2 separate regions of the Homo sapiens genome follow, and region 1 is linked to region 2. The links come from fine-mapping of genetic effects on gene expression. Tissue or cell type: B cells. Region 2 holds a variant in brackets; the other region holds the start of a gene. All regions are shown on one strand. Distances are between the middles of the regions.

The links.
Region 1: it holds the start of CNN3, and the variant in region 2 is fine-mapped to the expression of CNN3 in B cells (Fairfax 2012, PIP 0.95).

Annotation. Positions count from the first base shown.
Region 1 is chr1:94,923,076-94,933,118 of GRCh38, forward strand. CNN3 (calponin 3) reads right to left here and starts at 4,035. Exons shown (of 7, transcript NM_001839.5): 1 at 3,763-4,035. The coding sequence starts at 3,819. CNN3-DT (CNN3 divergent transcript) reads left to right here and starts at 3,285. Exons shown (of 3, transcript NR_168377.1): 1 at 3,285-3,665; 2 at 8,797-8,910. RefSeq lists silencers at 3,143-3,572, 3,673-4,552.
Region 2 is chr1:94,971,301-94,981,343 of GRCh38, forward strand. ALG14 (ALG14 UDP-N-acetylglucosaminyltransferase subunit) reads right to left here. Exons shown (of 4, transcript NM_144988.4): 4 at 3,105-10,043. Among named protein-coding and RNA genes, the nearest start is that of CNN3, 49 kb to the left of the region's middle. The variant C/T (reference allele first, on the strand shown) is at 4,436.

The DNA of each region.
Region 1 (10,043 bases), 48 kb before region 2:
AGGTTCCTGCGGCATTTGCTCTAAACCTGATGAAGACATGCTTCACTGCGTCCTCTCTTCCCATCCAACTTTACGGGAAACTACCCCCAACTCCAACATTTTGCCAGGAAATACTGTGCTTCCCTTGAGTACCTGTTATGTTTTTTCATGGTTTACGAGGCACAGAGTTGTTTCACTTTTCATTTTGGTTCCCAAGATGCATTCAAGGGCCTGGTTCAACCTGTAGAATACCTGTAGGGCCCATTATTTTATGAGTGTTTCCATCCTCCACCGAACCATCCCTACCAGTGTCTGCATTTTCCCTGGCCCTTTTACTCTCTGATAGTTTTTGTAAACTCTAAGTTATTGATCATTTGGTGTCATTTTTTTCTTTGTTATTAAAGAAACTTTGTTCATATTCCAGGCTGAAAGACTGGAATTCTTAGGCTTTTTTTTTTTAAGGCTGTTTTCACACATCTTCTTGCCTATTAAAAAAAGTAAGCTTGTGTGTTCTGCCATGTATTATCATCTTACCAATCAAATGTCTTAAAGATTTTTCTCTGAAATTTTACTGATTAAAGTATTTAAAATCAGAGACTTCCTCAATTCATTGATGAAATGCTTTTACAGCTAGAATATTATATAACAAGACCAAAAGGTATTAATACAAACCAAATACTTAAAGAGGCAGGGACATACAAATCTTAGAAATATAATACTAAAAACTAATTTTCTGTTACTAAGAGCTAATAGCTACAATACAGTCACTGAGTTGAGTATAAGCCAGACACATCTCCACAACATGGTGTCTGGGGGTGGCAACTATTGTTTTCCCCCATTCTACAGAACAGAAGCTAGGAGAGAGATGTCAAGTAGCTAGCCCAGCATCACAGAAGGCAGGAAGTGGCAGAACGGGGACTAGAACTCACATATGCTAGACTCCCAGGTCCACTCCACACTGTCTCCCCAGGATGTTTCTATACTTCTTTGTTAAATGAGATGTGGGGGTAGATGGGGGGAATCTAGCATTCAAGCAATGTATCAATTATGCAATAAAGAAAAAGCAGGAAGGAATCAAAAGGTGTCAAACCACGCAATGTCACTTTTGTATATACCCACCTTTCACCCGGGAGTCCTGAGGCCTCAGTCAAAATGCAGCATCTCATACAAAGGCCTAGCAAACATGGCTATTTGATTCCCAGGCCCAGAACAGATCAGAAACAGTATGACATAAATAATCACAATGTCAAGAAGTGACAGGTGGGTAGCAAAAATGGGAGGAAGGGCTGGGCGCCATGGCTCACGCCTGTAATCCCAGCATTTTGGAAGGCCAAGGCAGGGGGAATCACCTGAGGTCAGGAGTTGGAGACCAGCCTGGCCAACATGGCAAAACCCTGTCTCTACTAAATAATACAAACATTAGCCGGGCATGGTGGCAGGCACCTGTAATCCCAGCTACTCGGGGCGCTGAGGCAGGAGAATCACTTGAACCTGGGAGGCGAAGGTTGCAGTGAGCTGAGATCGCGCCACTGCACTCCAGCCTGGGCGACAGAGCAAGACTCCGTCTCAAAAAAGAAAGAAAAAAAAATGGGGGGAAGGCGACAGACAGCAGAGTTTGTGTAGAACATCCCTAAGTACTTCACTCAACTAAGACATCGCTTTTAGAGTTAAAATTCTTAGAATAGTCCAACTTCTGTGACCTTGAGCAAATCTTTCTGAGCTTCAGTGTACTGATCTGTAAATGATGTTGGATAATCCCAGCAATCCTCCTCACCTTACAGGACTGCTCTGCTGTTAAGATCAAAAGACTTCCTATGAAAGAATACTGTCTGAAAGGACTACAAAAATGAAACGGGTTATTAAAAAATGGGTTTGGTGCTTAAAGGGATAAATCCACAGCTTTCATAACTAACTTTCCAAAGGTTCTAAAAACTGAGGTTTTACCGTTTTTAAATATTTACAATAATTACAGTGATCTAGCCTGTGTATGCATTTCCTTGGATCTGCTCAGTATTAAGCAGGAAAAGGGCAAAAGCTGCTACATTAGTCAGCAAAAAAGAAATTAGCATGGATATTATTAACATCCAAGAAAAGTAAGTCACTTGAAGGGCTGCCAACGTTATCAGTACCTCATTTACAATGCAAAAGGTAGTAGAGACTCAACTGCTGCCAGCCAAGAATCACTGGGGGGAATTACAATGAATGTGCACAACCAGGCCAAAGTATCACATCACATCCAACATTTTGGACATGCCCATTCCTCTGAAGTTTCCTAAAGTTCGGTTTGTAAATCCTGGAAGGAAGGAAACAGTAACTTGTTACAAACTTTTCAGTTGGTGAGGTTTGCACTCAATCATACACAAACCATTCACCTTTCTGCTCTCTAAAAAAATTGTTAGCAAACTGTTGTCTAATACGGGCAACACGTTTGAAAAGGTAAAGGACCTAAACATTTCAACTTTAGATACATAGACTAAAATCAACTCCTTGCTTCAAAGACAGTATGATGTGCAGACTAACAGCGGGAGACAAGAGCCACAACTCTCCCTTGGGGTTTGACAACGGTGCGCTTCATTACCTCTTTACATAATTCGCTTCACACCGCCTACCCCCGCAGCCCCGGGATGTTCCAGCTCTGACAATGCCAGTGCCTTCCACCAGCGGTCGGACGGTGCGGTGGCAATCCTGACATGCTTGGGCTCCCGGGAGGTTAATGGGAATTAAACCACAGGCAGCCCTCCTTTGTGGCGCTTTGGCCAGAACAGCAGAAAGGAGACAATGAGCGTTCTGTGCACAGTTCCGCGCCGATTGGCTGGTCTCTCCCCCCAGAAACCCCTGATGTCATGGGCTTGGAATGCAGGGAGGGAGGAAGGAAGGAGAGGATTTGGGGAGGGGGACGCCTCTCATCTCTTTCCCAGGCCAAAAGTCCTAAAGATAAACCTAACGCATTCTTGGGCTCAGTGGCAAAGCTGAGCGTCACCAAATCCCAATCGCTCCAAACTATAAGCCGCCTCAGCAAACAAGCCCCAAACAAAAGCAACCCACAAAAATAATCCTTTATGTCGTGAAAGTCTAATGTACTTCAAACTTCTCAGTGTTTCATAAAAAGTCTCAAGCCTAAGCAGATATCACTCGCACAGTGGCGCGCTCAGGCTTTGTCTCCATTTCCCGCAAAAGCAACAGCAGAAGCAGCAGCAGCAATCTGCCTCCAAATGCCTCCCAGGCACCGAGATCGGAGACTGTGATGGGTCCCGGACCGGCTTCCGTTCCTCGGGGCCCCTGGGGTCGGCGGGACATTAGGCGGTCTCTCTCCCCGTGGGGAGGCGCGGAGTCCGCCAGCACCCGGGGCCCGGGCAGATGGCGGGGGCTGCGGCAGCGGCTCGCCGGGTCCCTGGCCGCGCAGACGGGCTCCGCCTAAGGGCGAGTGGCCACGCAGGAGCGCCCCCTTCCCGGAGGGCGCGTTCTGCAGTCACCAAACGGCCCCCGAGACCCCCGCAGCCGGAAAGGCTGGCGCCGCGGGACTCCAGGCGCCCGGGAACCCACCGCCAGCCACTAGTCCTGTCCCACGGCGCGGGAACAAAGCCAGGCGGGTGCCCGGGAGCCGGCCCCGCAAGCCCGGGGACTGGACGCGACCGGGACAGGCAGAGACGCTCGCGCCGCCTCGACGGCCCCTCTCCAGGAAAACGGTGAGCCACAGCGCGAAGAGCAAACGAAGCACGGCCCAGCGCCAGGCCAGCCCAAGGGTGCCCCGGGGGCCCCCGCGCCCGCCCGAGCCAGGCGTACCTTGTTCTTGACTTCGGCCGAGAGCCCATAGGAAGGGCCCTTGTTGAAGTGGGTCATGGTGGTTCGGGCGGCGGGAAGAGACAGCGCTGGGGTCCGGGGTCTCTCGCACTTCGCTTCCCCGCTCCTGGCCCCGAGGAGTGGCCGCCGCGGGGGATGCTCGAACTCCCTCCTCTGGGAGGCGCAGGAGACGGCCGCGGGGCGCGGGCGGTGCCTGGGCGACTGGGTCCAACTGGGTGCTACAGAGCCTCGAGCTCCGCTGCGAAGCACCCGGCTGCCTCGCTCGCCGCCCGCACCTCGGTTCCCCACAGGCCGCCCCCGCCTCCGCCTGGGCCTTCGAGGATTGGCCGCCGGGCCCGACCAATGGAGGGCCGCCTCCTCCCGCCTCTGCGCCGAGGGGCGGTGCGGCCAATTGAAGGGCCGCGGGGGCCGCTTTCCCTCCCGCTCCCTCCCCGCGAGGTCCCCGGCCCCCGCCCCAGCCCTCACGCCACCGGGGCCGGCGGCTAGGCGGCCCCGCCCCCGGGCTAGGCAGGGCGCCTGGGGGCTTCCCAGCCACAGGCCATTCACGTCAACCTCCAGGCATCCTCCGCGGCGGGCCGGACCGGGCCGGCGGAGGGGAGCGGAAGCCCACCGGGGCTGGCCCGCCGCTGACCCGCCGCCTCCGTCTGCCTCCTCCCGGGCTCTGGGCCCAGCGCGCCCAGATGCCGGGCAGGACCCCTCCGCCCGCTGCTGGAACACCAATAGCAGCGTTGGAGCCTCTGGGCCGGAGGAACTGGGGCCTCCACCGACACCTGCTTCTTCCCTCACCTCGCAGCCTTCCACACCTGTTGATCTGACCTCTGCCCCGCTGCCGCCCAGGAGTAACCTAAGGCTTTTGGCCTGATTCGAGCTCACTCCGTCTAAACCTCTAAATGCGGTGCGAAAAAATCCTGGGGAATGTGCCATGCAAAGCCTGGGCATTTCAAGTGCTTTTCTGGATTCGCATCAACTCCTCTTTACAGGCATCTTTATCCGGAATTCAGCTCGTCCCAAACCCCACGTGGTGTAGCTCTGCTTGTGTTTTTGAATCCCGGGGCCTCTTTGAATCAGAAGCCCTTTGTATAGAGATAAGTATCCTTTAGGCCAGAATCAGCCTCCATTTTTTTCGCAGTCCCATTTCCTACCCGTAATACTTTCTTCTGATTTTAAAGCCATTTGATAGAGAAGGGACAGGGAACAGAACCTTCGCCCCCCGCCTGAGCAGCTGGTAGACTAGATATCTTCCAAACATTATCTCATTTACTTCCCTGGAGTTACAAATAGGTAGATTTCATGTCCGTTGAGGGGTGAGAAAGCTGAAACTTTGAGACTTAAGAATCCTGGCCGAGGTCAGCCTCCTCCGAAGCTTCATCTCTTGCCACCACTTTCTGGTGCACACCTAGGACAGATTTCAATCCCTGAGATCCCAGGATGAAACCTATGTTTGCCAAATACCAGCTACTGTGCCAGAAGAGATCATGGAACCAGGTGTGGAAAGCTGCTTGAGAAGAGGAGCCAAAACATCATAGTTGAACCGTCCTGGAATAGAAGTGAGTAAGGTGAACCAGGTGTGGTGGCTCATGCCTGTAATCCTAGCACTTTGGGAGACCGAGGTGGGAGGATTGCTTGAGGCCTGGAGTTCAGGAACATCCTGGGCAACATAGCAAGATCCTGTCTCTACAAAAAATCCAAAGTTTTTTTAAATTAAAAAAAAAAAGTGAGTAAGGCAGCTTGAACCGGAAATGCACAAAACTGCTATCCAGTTTGCAAGGCTTTTCCCAATGACTTTGAGGGATGGAACCTGAAGGAAGCGGGAGGAGGCAAATAGGGAGGAAAGTGAAATGATTTATAAATGACTTGCTAATTTTGTCCAAAGGGAGTAATGATAATTAGGGCATTCTTCCCACACGAAGATGACACAATTGACCCAATATCATTGAGGCTAACAGTTTGGGCTGTTTTTCCAGTAGTATGACAGTGACGGTGTGTCAACCGCAGGACCTCACCCACATTTCTTTGGGACCTAGGAGTGTGGGAAATAGCAGCCAGATTTGAGGTACAAATCATGGTGTCCAGCCTGCAAAGCCTTTTTGCAGCAATCTAAGCCTGACTGCTCCTGTTGTATGCTCAAAGTCATTTTAATCTACTTTAGCTTATTGTAAAATGTTCAAGAATTGTATTTTGTCTTGAAAACCATGAATTTTATTGTTTAGGGGGAGTTATTTTTTAAGGAGTGCAGGATTTCAGTTTTGGATGATGAAAAAGTTTTGAAGATGGGTAGTGACAGTGGTCACACAACATTGTAAATGTACTTAATGCCATTGTACACTTACGTGACTTTAAAGTAAACATGAAATTTTCTACATTTGTTTGTTTGATCAACTGTTATCCTCCCTAAGGTACTTGAAGTTCTTTCTGACATTGCCACTGGAACTTACTATTTAAATATTGTTGGTCCTCTTGGATTCCATCAGTACTCCAGAGACTTCCTTCGTTTCTAATTTAACTCATTGTGTAAGAATACGTAATGCTGTTGTTAGCACTAGGGAATGTATCTGAGTCTCATGCACCAAAGTGTGTTAGCAGCAGCAAATCTGTATGGGTCTGCAGCAACCTCAATTCTTGCCTCCTCCAAAGAAAGAATTCTACCGAGAGGCATAAGGCAGAGGGAGAGGCCAAGGCACGTTTTAGAGCAGGAGTGAAAGTTAGAGCAAGAATGAAACGAAGTAATGTACACTTGGAAGAGGGCCAGGCGGGCAACTTGAGAGATTCAAGTGCGCTGCTTGACCTTTGACTTGGGGTTTTATACATTGGCATGCTTCCAGGGGGTTGTGTCCCTTTTCCCCTGATTCTTCCCTTGAGGTGGGCTGTCTGCATGTGCAGTGGCCTGCCAGCACTTGGGAGGGACCACATGCTCAGTGTGTTAACTGAGGTTGTACGCATGCTCACTTGAGGCATTCTTCGCTTACTAGTCAAGTGTTCCTAGAAGAAGGTCATATATGAGTACCAGTTAAATGCCACCATTTTGCCTCTTAGTTCACACCTGTGAGCCCACTCAGCCAACTCCTAAGATCCTATCCAGAAGCTGCTGATCACCAGTTGTAGGTATTTTCTAGCCATTGGGAGACTGCCTTTCCCTGGTGCCGGCTGTGACCAGTTATTATTTTAGAGAGACAGTTTAACAACTGCCTGACCACCTGATGGTTGCGTGACATTCCTGGTGGGAGCGGGGAGCCCTCTCCTGCTCTGCTTGTGTCTGACTACCTACTGTGGCACTATAGAATCAAATGAGAAAAACTTAAAATTTGGGACAATTTTAACAGCTTTATTGAAGTATATTGATATAACAAAGTATATTTAAAGTGTTCAGTTTGATACACACATATACACATAGATACACCTATTTAAAAACCCATCACCACAACAGACAAAGGACATATTCATCATACCCAAAAGTTTCCTCATGTAGCCCCTCCCTCCCAGTCTTCCTTACCTCTCCACCCCACCAGGCAACCCCTGATATGCTTTATGTAACTATACATTAATTTGTATTTCCTAGAATTTTATATAATTGGAATCACACATTGTATATTCTGTTTTATCTGGCTTCTTTCACTCAGCAAAATTATTACGAGATTCACTGACGTTGTAGCATGTATCATTAGTTCATTCCTTTTATTACTGAGTAGTATTCAACTGTAGGGATACACCAGTGATTTTACCCATTCCCTTATTGATGAACATTTTGGTTGTTTCTAGATTTTGGCTATTGCAAATAAAGCTGCTATGAACATTCATGTACAAGTCTTTGTATGGACATATGCTTTAATTTCTCTCCCATAAATACCTATAAATGGAATGGCTGGATCAAGTGAAAGATGTATATTTCACTTTTTAAGAAACTGCAAACTTTTTCCAAAATGATTGTACCATTTTACATTCCCACCAGTGCGTATGAGAGTTCCAGTTCCTCTGCTTCCTCACCAACAGTTGGTAGGTCAGTTTTTTTAAATTTAGTCATTCTTATAGATGTGGAGTATGGTATCTCATTATGGTTTTAATTTGAATTCCCTTAATACGTAATGATGTTGGGCTTCTTTTCATGTATTTATTTGCCATCTGTGTATCTTTTTCATGAAATGTTTGTTCAGATCTTTTGCCTATTTTTATTGGATTGTGTGTTTTCTTATTATGGTATTTAACTTGTCACTGTTAGGATACATTTCAAAAATCCTGACCAAGTTCTAACAGTAGAATGTGTCAGTAAATGCTCAGTTTAAGTAAAATGTCACATTGCAAACTAACTACCAGGGTGTGGCCCAGCAATCTTAAGTACTTTCCCTGGAAGTTTCTGTAATATGCAGAACACTTTCAATTGAAATAAATGCTGTTAAGGAGGTCAACTCAACCTTTCCAAATTTTTATTAATTAAAAGCAGTTGTTGGAGAGTTGTAGAAAAGTATTTTTTCACAGAGGCAAATTTGTGGGTCATATTGCCATACATCTTGCCACGAAAATAATAACATAAAGTGTTTTGAAGAATTCACCCTGTAAATCTGTCAGAGGCATGTGAACCAAAGCAACTCCATCTTGAATAGGGGCTAGGTAAAATAAGGCTGAGACCTGCTAGGCTGCATTCCCAGACGGTTAAGGCATTCTAAGTCACAGAATGAGTTAGGAGGTCAGCACAAGGTACAGGTCATAAAGACTTTGCTGATAAAACAGGTTTCAGTAAAGAAGCCAGCCAAAACCCACCAAAACCAAAATGGCGGCAAGAATGACCTCTGGTCGTCCTCACTGCTACACTCCCACCAGCGCCATGACAGTTTGCAAATGCCATGGCAACATCAGGAAGTTGCCCTATATGATCTAAAAAAAGGAGGCATGAATAAGCCACCCCTTGTTTAGCGTATCATCAAGAAATAACTATAAATAAGGGCAACCGGCAGCCCAAGGGGCTGCTCAGTCTGGAGTAGCCATTTTTTTATTCCTCCTAATAAACTTGCTTTCACTTTACAGACTCGCCCTGAATTCTTTCTTGTGTGAAATCCAAGAGCCCTCTCTTGGGGTTGGATCGGGACCCTGTTCCTGTAACAAGTCCACAATGCCAGAGAATTAAAGAGAACCACAAAGGTATGGATCAGTTATGGTAAAGGCAGAAGGGACCCTAAAAGGCTCAGAGGCTAAGGGACTTTTAAGCACCTGCTATGTGCTAAGCACTATTAGAGGCACATAACAGGCAGTGAGATCAAAATTCATCACCCAAATAGGGGCATTTTTGAGAGTGAAAGGGCACTATTAATATTTTTTTGTTTCAGGCAGTCCTGATAAAGCCCCTTCATAGTGTGCTCATTTCACCCTCAAAAGTGTCCCGTTGAGATGCTAAATCACAGTCACCCCACTTATAGGCATCACTTGCAATAACCCTATAATAATCAATATTATCTATTCCTACTTTATAATCAAAAACTAAGGTTTAGTATGGTACACAACTCGGTCAATATCAAACAGTTAACAGAGAGCAGAGTTGGGATTTGAAACCAGGCCTGGTTTAGAATGATTGCTCAAAAACCAACTTCCCAGACTCCTGAAGAATCTGAAGTCACCCTTTTTTGAGGGGGGCAAGGGGGGATGCTTTATGGAATTTATTATAAAAATGCCCCTGGCCTGGTGCAGTGGCTCACACCTGTAATCCCAGCTCTTTGGGAGGCAAGCGGATCACATGAGGCCAGGACTTCGAGACCAGCCTGGGCAACATGGTGAAACCCCGTCTCTACTAAAAATACAAAAATTAGCCGGCAGGGTGGCACACACCTGTAGTCATAGCTACTCAGGAGGCTGAGGCGAGAGAATTGCTTGAACCCAGAGGTGCAGATTGCAGTGAGCCAAGATTGCACCACTGCACTCCAGACTGGGAGACTGCACTCCAGCAGAGTGAGACTCTGTCTTAAAAAAAAAAGCTCCTATCCTTTACATCTTTTTCTTTATAATAACAACTTTGTATTGGATTTGGCAGTGATCCTTTGTTGTTGCCCATCTTCATTTGAAATCAGTTTTTCCAAAACACATGTGAGCAGCCGAATAGAAGAGATGCATAGGATGAGGTATGGGAGAAGGGGAGCAGAACTGCCACGGCCTCTCTGTCACGCCCCACTTCAGGAACCTTCATGGGTTCAGCTACCTGGAAGCTCCCTGAAATTGCTCTTGTAAGGTACATTTGCTCCTTTTTCCCCTCCCTTTGGAGAGTGCTCACCAGTTACTCCAGG
Region 2 (10,043 bases):
TTTCCATAAATTTGCTTTTTCAAATTACCTATAATGTGATGGGTGTTTCCTTATGAATAGTAATTGAAAATATGTTTGGCTAGATTTTATTTCTATGTCTCAGGATGTCCTTGGAGGGAAGGCAGGGGTCTTAACATATCAAAAGTAATTTCCTGGCTTTAGAGTTTAAAGGAAATAAACAAAGACCTACTTATTTGATTGGCCAAATGCTCGCTCGACAGGGTTAAAATCTAATTAAAGTATCTTTTAGATGTTCCGTGGTTGGACTAGCAGCTGTAGGTCAGAAGTTCAGAACAAAAAGTGAAATCCTAGGATTAACTGTCATACTCTTGTATCAAATATTTTTCTGTTGATTCAACTTCCCATGGTAATTTTTTCTGGATGAGGCTTTGCCACCACTTGTGTCTGCCACCTTCTGAGTTGGCACCGATAATGTAGTACGGAGTAGAAAAGCAACTTATCTGATGGAAGAGCTTTTCAGGACTGTCTCTGTGTCTCATGAGAGACACGGGTACCTGCAGATTCTGTGGATTTTGTTGTGTGGAGCATGAAAGGGAAGAGTCATGGAATCACAAGAATGACAGGCTAAGCCCTGGCTCTGCCACTAGCCAGCTGTGCAACCCTAAGCAGATACTCAAGCTTTCTCAGTTTTATTTTCTCCAGAAAAGGTGGTAATGATAATACTTAACTCATTAGGTCCACCCCTAACATTTCCAGGACCCCTGGCAAGAGTGTACACAAAAACCTCTGCCACAGCCCCCCTCCCTTCTCTTTCCATCTGGCTCCATCCTGCCCTCCACACCTCAGCTTGCAGGTCCTAACTCCTGCCACACCATTCCCCACTGAAAACCACCCATGCCATCTCTCAGCCCAGGGGCACAGTTCACTTGCATTCCATGGGGCAAGGGGCCCAGGCAAATCCTAGAAGCAGGCTCGGGCCACTGAGGCAGGGAATTTTGGGGCCTGGGCAGCCAGAGTTTGGTCTAGAAAAGTGTGGCCCTTCCAACCCCATAGGGAGGAAAGTGGCAAATATGTGTCTTTAAAGTGTGGGCCTCAGTTGCTTGGGTCTGAGAATTAAATGAGTCAGTGCACACACAGCACTTCTGACATCGAGCGGGGAGTGTGCCCTTGGAGAAAGGGATCCTTCAATAGGAGTCAGTGCCCTTAAGTCTCCTGTAAAGGTCTTGTCAAATTGATGTTGGAACACCTCAAATATTTACCAAACAATGAGGAGCACAGTCCTTAGGTGGATAAAGATTATGGTGACATTTCAAACTCGATAACAGTGTATTGAAAGGCCCAACATAGACTATTTCAAGTCAGAGAAACCTCTTCAGGTTCAGATTTGCAGACTGATCCTTTTCTCTTCTTTTGTTTGAGATGGAGTCTCAAAATATTTGATACTCTGTCGCCAGTCTGGAGTGCAGTGGCACAATCTCGGCTCACTTCAACCTCTGCCTCCCAGGTTCAAGCGATTCTCCTGTCTCAGCCTCCCGAGTAGCTCAGACTACAGGCGCGTGCCACCACACCCATCTAATTTTTGTATTTTTAGTAGAGACGGGGTTTCACCTTGTTGGCCAGGATGGTCTTGATCTCTTGACCTCGTGATCCACCCACCTCGGCCTCCCAAAGTGCTGGGATTACAGGCATGAGCCACCGTGCCCGGCCCACTTTTTTTTTTTTCATGAGTTAAGCATGAAATAAAAGTAATTTTTAAGTGTCCTTTCTTGTTCTCATTTAAAAACCTAGTTTGTTTCATTTATCTATAATCAATACATTCTTTGGCTTTTTAGCATCTGAAAATTTCTTACATGATATATATTTCTAGAGCTTTTAATTATGGAAATGCTGAAACGTATATGAAATAGAGGGAATATAATGGGCTTATTTGTGAATCTCCATGTACCCACTGCCCAGTTAGCTTCCACACGCATGGCTAATCCTGTTTTATCTATAAACTCTCCTTCCTGCCCCACTCTGGCAATGGATTTTCAATCAAATCTCAGGCCTCTTATCATTTCATCCACAAATACTTTGTTTTTTATAAGATTTTGATGAAAACATTTTAAGCTTTTTCCATCTGGCTGCTTTAGACTCCGCTTGTTCAACTGGGCTGTCAATGGACCAAACCACGAGTCTTTTTAGATGCCTTGCATGGTTTTAGGTCCAGATAATTCAGGGCAAATCGGTTTGAAAATTGAACCTCTTTTAATTTGTCTGCCAGACTGGAACTGAATAAGGGAACATTTTGGATACTTTTTATTCCTTGCTGAATTTCTGCCAACTCTGTATATGGTATTTCCATAAAAGTCTTGTTTTTCTCCCTTTTCTTTGAAGAATGAAACTTCTTTTCCCTTTTTCTGAGAGGCGGGAAGAGACTGTCCCCAGAGTCCATTCCTCCTGCGGCTGCTTGGCTTTCCTTGGGCTGTATTCCCTTCCTACTCTGAGTGTGTACGTTCTGGGGGTTGGCAGTCCAGTGGGGACCCAGACATGGGGATGGTGGGCCTTCTTGATGTCATACAAAGATTACTGCACTTCAGTCACTGGAGCTCAACTGAAAACTTAAAAAAGTTCTCTTGGGCTGGGTGCGGTGGCTCACGCCTGTCATCCCAGCACTTTGGGAGGCCGAGGTGGGTGGATCATGAAGTCAGGAGTTCGAGACCAGCGTGGCCAAGATGGTGAAATCCCGTCTCTACTAAAAATACAAAAATTAGCCGGGCGCAGTGGCGGGTACCTGTAATCCCAGCTACTCAGGAGGCTGAGGCAGGAGATTCACTTGAACCCAGGAGGAGGAAGAGGTTGCAGTGAGCTGAGATCGTGCCACTGCACTCCGGCCTGGGTGACAGAGCAAGACTCCATCTCAAAAAAAAAAAAAAAAAAAGTTCTCTTTACAGTCATTGAATTTTAAATCATTATCCTAAAAAGATTGAGAGAGGAAAAAAATGATTTCAAATTGGACAGAATTTTTTTTTTTACATCTCCTTGCCAGAAACATTGTTCTCATTTTCAGTTGAATGGCTTGGGTATTAATTAAAGCTTCATGCTCAGCCACTATCTCCTTTTCTACATTCTTGCTGCTAATCGTCATATATGTAACACATGACTTCTGTTTAAATGCTCAAGTTTATTAGAGTGGAAAAAAATCTCAGTTATACAGGAAAGGAAAAGAGATTAGGAATCAAGTCCAACCATGTGCTTATTCATCTGCATATGGTTAAAGATTTAAAAGAATCCATTGGTTTCTTTTTCACTGCTGCATGCAGGCCAAGGAGAAAGGAGGAAAAAAAATCATTTTCCTATCCATGGTGTAGAAATACATCTTCTGCCTTTTGCCTGGCAGGCAAAAAATTTCTTCCTCTTTTAATATTAAGCGAAAGTACCCAAGCTTTGGAGAAACTGTCTCCTTCTGAAAGGTTATTTTTCTAATTACCTATTGCTTTGTGACAAATTATTCCAAAACTTCGTGGTGGAAAACTACTACCATTTAATCATGCCTATGAACTCTGTGGATCAGCAAATCACAGGGCACAGAAGGGAGAGCTTTTCTCTCTTCCAAGGTGTCTGAGCCTCAGCTGGGAAGACCAGAAAGCCTGGAGTGACTCAAATGGCAGGGCTGGAATAATCTGGAGACTTCTCCTCTTGCATGTCTAGTGCCTCCAGTGAGATGACTCAAAGTCTATACTAAGATGTGACTGTCAATTGGAATGTCTACAGATACCATAAAATTCACCCAGTATACAATTCAGTGGCTTTTAGTATATTCACAGAGATGTACAACCATCACCACTGTCGAATTCCAGAACATTTTCATCACCTCCAAAAGAAGCCTCATACCCATTAGGAGTTGCCCTCCATTTCCCCTTCTCACTGCCCCTGGAAACCACTAAGCTACTTTCTGTCTATGGACTTGCCTACTCTGGACATTTCATATGAATAGAATCATGCATTTGTTGTCTTTTGTGGCTGGCTTCTGTAACTTAGCCTACTGTTTACAAGGTTCATCCACACTGTAGCATGTATTAGTACTTCATTCCTTTGTGTGATCGAGTAATATTCCACTATATGGATATACCACATTTTGTTTATCTGTTCATTAGTAGAGCATTTGGGTTGTTTCTACTTTCGGGTTATTATGAATAACGCTGCTGCGAACATATAAGTTTTTGTGTAAATACATGTTTTTAATTCTCCAGGGTATACACCTATGGGTAGAATTTCTGGGTCATATGATAACCCTATGTTTGATTTTTGTGAAACTGCTGAACTGTTTTCCACAGCTGCTGCACCATTCTACATTCCTACCAGCAATGTAGGAGGGCTCCAATTTCTCCAAATCCTTGGCAGCATGTATTTTCTGGGTTTTCTTGGACTATAGCCACCCTAGGGGGTTGCTGCCCTTAGTTTAAAAAGAGCCTCCTGGCCGGGCGCAGTGGCT[C/T]ACGCCTGTAATCCCAGCACTTTGGGAGGCCGAGGCGGGCAGATCACGAGGTGAGGAGATGGAGACCATCCTGGCTAACACAGTGAAACCCTGTCTCTACTAAAAATACAAAAAAAACAAACAAAAAAAAAATTAGCCGGGCGTGGTGACAGGCGCCTGTAATCCCAGCTACTCGGGAGGCTGAGGCAGGACAATGGCGTGAACCCAGGAGGCGGAGCTTGCAGTGAGCCGAGATCGCGCCACTGCACTTCAGCCTGGGCAACAGAGCGAGACTCTGTCTCAAAAAAAAAAAAAAAAAAAAAAAAGAAAGAAGAGCCTCCTTAACACACCAGGGGAGCTACCACTGATGGAGACAAATGTGACTGAGGGCTTGAGGGCTTACTATTTAGCAGGCTCTGTGCTAAACACTGTACATACATCATCTGAATGTTTAGTGCTCCCTACAACTCTAACGCAGGTACATTATGCTTATTTTACAGAAAGGTCAAGTAACTTGCCAGAAAAGGGATAGAGTTTGGGAGATGTGGATTTCCCATATTAAAAAAAAATTAGAGAACTTGGATACTAAGGTAGGAGTTTGGTGGCCCAAGTGAAAGGTTATTATTATTATTTTTTCAAAACAAAACAAAAAACATCTAGCTGATTGTGGTTGGCAGAAGTCTCAGATGGCCCCCAGAACGGGCATGGTGGCTGACGCCTGTAATTCCAGCACTTTGGGAAGCCGAGGTGGGCGGATCACTTGAGCCCAGGAGTTCGAGACCAGCCCGGCCAACATGGTGAAACCCCATCTCTGCTAAAAATACAAAAGTTAGCCGGGCTGGTGGTGCACTCCTGAAATCCCAGCTAGTCAGGCGGCTGAGGCACGAGAATCGCTTGAACCAGGGAGGTAGAGGTTGCAGTGAGTTGAGATTGCACCACAGCACTCCAGCCTGGGTGACAGAGTGAGACTCCGTCTTAAAGAAAAAAAAAAAAGATGTCCCCTAATATTCCACCCCCTGATTTACATGCCCTGGATAATCTACTATCCGTTAGTATGGGTGGGATCTGTGAATATCATGACATGTCATTCCTCTGATTATGTTACATTAACATGGCAAAAGGGACGTAATTATGATCCTAATCAGTTGACCTTGAATTAATCAAAAGGGAGATTACACTGACTCAGTCATGTGAGTCCTTAAAAGATAGGAAGCAGGCCACCACAAATCCTACAACTGCAAGGAACTGAATTCTGCCAACAACCATCTGAAGGTATCTGAAAAGGATTCAGAGTTGCAGATCAGAACTCAGCCTTGGCCATCATCTTGATTTCAGCCTTTTGAGATCTTGAGCAGAAAACCTTCTTTGCCTGGATTTCTAACCTACAGAGATAATGTATTGTTTTAAGCCAATATATGTGTGGCAATTTTTTACACAGCGATAAAACTAATACACAGATCACTGACTGACTAAAGAGGAGATAGGCCGGGCGCAGTGCCGCATGCCTGTGATTCCAGCACTTTGGAAGGCCAAGATAGGAGGATTCCTTGAGACCAGGAGTTTGAGACCAGTCTGGACAACATAGTGAAACCCTGCCTCTTATTTTAAAAAAAGAAGAGATGAATTCGCTGATGTGACATTATGTAAAGCAGCAGTTCTTAAAATGTGGTCCAAGGTCCTGGGGAGTCTTCAAGACGTTTTTAGGGGTTTATGAGGTCAAAACTATTTTCATAGTAATATTAAGATGTTATTTGCCTTTTCCTTGTCATTCTTATGATGGTATAGTTTTCCAGATGCTACAAGATGTGTGATGATATTGTTCTGACAGCCAGTGGAATATGTCCTTTTATATTCTTGCGTTTAAAATTTTTGTCTAGTTTCTACAATGGTAAATATTGACAAATATAGCTCACACAAACAAAAGCTCATTGGGATATATTTTTTTTTTTTCTGAGGCAGGGTCTCACTCTGTCACCCAGGCTGGAGTGCAGTGCCATGATCTCGGCTCACTGCAACCTCCACCTCCCAGGCTCAAGTGATCCTACCACCTCAGCCTCCCAAGTAGCTGGAACTATAGGTGTGCATCACCATGCCTGGCTAATTTTTGTATTTTTTTTGTAGAGATGGGGTTTTACTGTGTTGCCCAGGCTGATCTCAAACTCCTGGGCTCAGGTGATCCATCCACCTCGGCCTCCCAAAGTGCTGGGATTACAAGTGTGAAACACTGTGCCCAGCCAGTTTTCAATAATTTTTTAGTATAATGAGGTCCTGAGATCAAAACGTTTGTGAAGCACTGGTCTAGATAAAATATAACTGAAGTGAGCCTAGACAAGTCTGAAGCTATAATTTTTTTCTTTTTTTTTTTTTGAGGTGGAGTCTCGCTCTGTCCCCCAGGCTGGAGTGCAGTGGTGCCATCTCAGTTCACTGCAACCTCCACCTCCCTGGTTCAAGCAATTATTTGCCTCAGCCTCCCAAGTAGCTGGAATTACAGGCGCCCGCCACCACGCCGGCAAATTTTTTGTATTTTTAGTAGAGATGGGGTTTCACCATCTTGGCCAGGCTGGTCTTGAACTCCTGACCTTGTGATACACCCACCTTGGCCTCCCAAAGTGCTGGGATTACAGGCGTGAGCCACCATGCCTGGCCAAATAATTTATGTATTTAATTAGTGCCTATGTTTTGTACAGAGCTGTGGTGTAAATACTATCAAAAGTGGAACAAGGATACAAAACTAGAATGAGGTACAGTCCCTGAAGACAAACATAAATAATCAGCAATAGCATTCATTATTCCTTCCACAGGTGTTTCTAAGAACAAGGACTGCAATTCGATGGTATATAACTCAGCACTAACCTTTGGTATGGGTGGCTATGTCACAGAGTTATTTAGAGAATTTGCTCAAGCTAAATGAAGACAAAGACTTTGTGGGTGGGGCAAAATCTAAGTTGGGAGTGAAGTAGAAGGAGGACAAATATTTAAGGCATTATCCTTTGGAACTCAGGTAAAATACCACTTTCTTAGAAAGGCCTTTCCTGATTTCCCTATCTAGAACACCAACTACCTTCTACTCCGTCATAGTACCCTGTTACCCCATTTATTTCCTTTTGAGGACATTTTTTCTTTTTTCTTTAAAAAAAAAAAAAAACACCTAACGTAGCTATTAAGGTAAGCCTGGCTGGAGCTAGAATGCCTTGGTTCAAATCTGAGCTTTGTCACTTTCTAGTTCTATAATCTTTAATAAATTACTTAACCTCTCTGTGGTGTAAATATTATAAAAAGTGGAACAAGGGCCGGACGTGTGGCTTACACCTGTAATTCCAGCACTTTGGGAGGCCAAGATGGGTGGATCACCTGAGGTTGGGAGTTCAAGATCAGCCTGGCCAACATGGTAAAACCCTGTCTCTACTAAAAATACAAAAATTAGCCAGGTGTGGTGGTGCATGCCTGTAATCCCAGCTACTCGGGAGGCTGAGGCACAAGAATCGCTTGAAGCCAGGAGGCAGAGGTTACAGTGAGCCAGTAAGGTGAGATTGCACCACTGCACTCCAGCCTGGGCGATGGAGCGAGACTGTCTCGAAAAAAAAAAAAAAAAAAAAAAAAGAAAGAAAAAAGTGAAACAAGTATACAGAACTAGCATGAGGGGAAGTCTCTGAAGACAAACATAAGTAATTAACAAAATCATTCATTTGTTCCTTCCACAGGTGTTTCCTCAGTTCCTCAATAAAACTTGCTCATCAAGCAAGAAATTTTTGTTGAAGAGCTGGCTTAGGTTGTAACTATGGGACTGAAAAGGAAAGGGTAGATATGAACTAAGTCAAAGGCAGAATCAATAGGTGATGACAAAGGAGAGGAACAGTAAAAGTAATTTCAAGGAGAGAAGAGGAAGACGAGAAAATTCTGGGGATAATGAAACAAAAAAGGCAACCAATTATAATTGGGTAAAGAAAGAGTGAAAAAGCAAAAATGATCCCAAAGTTTGTTGCTTGAGGGACATGATAGAAGCTAGTGGGCTAGCATTAGTTAACTACTCCAGTGCGAAAAGGAGGAGCTATGTCAAATTCATGTTTAAAATGAGTGGGCAGCAGGAACACAGTTGTAGATGATTTGTTTTTAGAGTGCTAGAGGGATGGGCCCTAACAAAAGAATGTTGAAGGCGGACAAGATTTGGGTGTCTGCTCATTGTGCGCCAGGGCTGAAGTCATGGGAAGAAACCCCGTGAGGCTCAAACGCTGACCTGTAGGGAGAAGGACAATTTTCTTTAACACTTACAATGATGTTCTTATTGTTGGTAAAAGGTGCTTAATACATTGCTATCAAATGCCTTTTGGGGGATGGGGCTTTTCAGAAAAAAAAAAAAGCACTCATTCAACCCAAGGAACTGTATAGTAAAGGGGTACGTTTCTCAATTTTAACTTACCATGTATCTTTGAAAGGTAGAATGATGTGTTCCAAGTTGCTTTTATAAGGGGAAGCTTGGGTCATCTCCTTCCTAGCAAGGACATCTTGCTATTCAACTCACAATTGTCACCACTCCTCTTGTTGACACGGTTTCATAGCACTCTTCGTTCCAGGCTAAAGTTTCCTGTCATGATTTTTGGGCATCCTTTTTGAAACAGTTAGACATTCTGACCTGGCAAGCTACTGAGACCTTTTAGGATAGCTGGACTGTAGATAGAAATCTTCCAGGGAAGTAGGTGTGGGCAGGATGTGTGGTTTCCCTGCCTCTCATTTGAAGACTGATTCAATTAATTTTTTCATGAACAGTCTCCTACAGTAAAAGTTGCATTCAGAGTGTTCTAAGAGAAACTGGAAGGGACAAGCTAGCTACTCATCTTCTTCAGTTTGAGTTGGGACTGGCGCACTATCTTTCTGAATGTCACAGAAATGCACAGCAGGGAAATTGTGCCACCAGCCCCCTCTGCTAATGGGACCTTGAGGACTCAAATTAGCCATAACAGTAACACACAGCAGAGCATGCACTTGTTTACCAGAGTAATCTGAATGATCAGGAAGATGCAATAACACATGTCTCAGCCTGGCTCTGAATGAGTACACAGCAGCCTGAACCTATGAAAGATATAACATTTCTAAACTTTTGGTGATATAACACATACACATTCTTTCTCTGACATTCCAGGCTAACCACTGTCTTAAGTTAAGGCTCTGCAAAACATCTGGGACATATGTTTCTGGAAAAAATTATAGCATCTTTTCTACAATTCTCTCTGGTCTGATCTTTGTTAAGCTCTGACCTGACAGAAGCCTCTGCAGCAGGATTACCTGTGGGGGCCCAGGGAAGCTGCCCCACAGCACAGAGAGGCATTCACTAAACGCAGTTCACTTTCCCTTACCATTCATTTACCTAGTGCCACTCAGGGAACAAAGTACAGAGCAGAGAAAGCCTTAAACAGCAATAAAATGCAGATGCTGTTGTCCCTGAAAAAATCACTTTCTTTCTAGAACAGTCAAGGCTTATTTCACCTCAGCCCCTGGTTGTATGATACTAATACGCTCTGATACTCCAGGGAAGCAACCAGTGACTGAGATTTGAGGATTAAAATCAAAGCACAATGAACTATCATTTGGCTGCCCCAGGCCCACTAAATCCAGACAGCAAAGTGTTCTCACC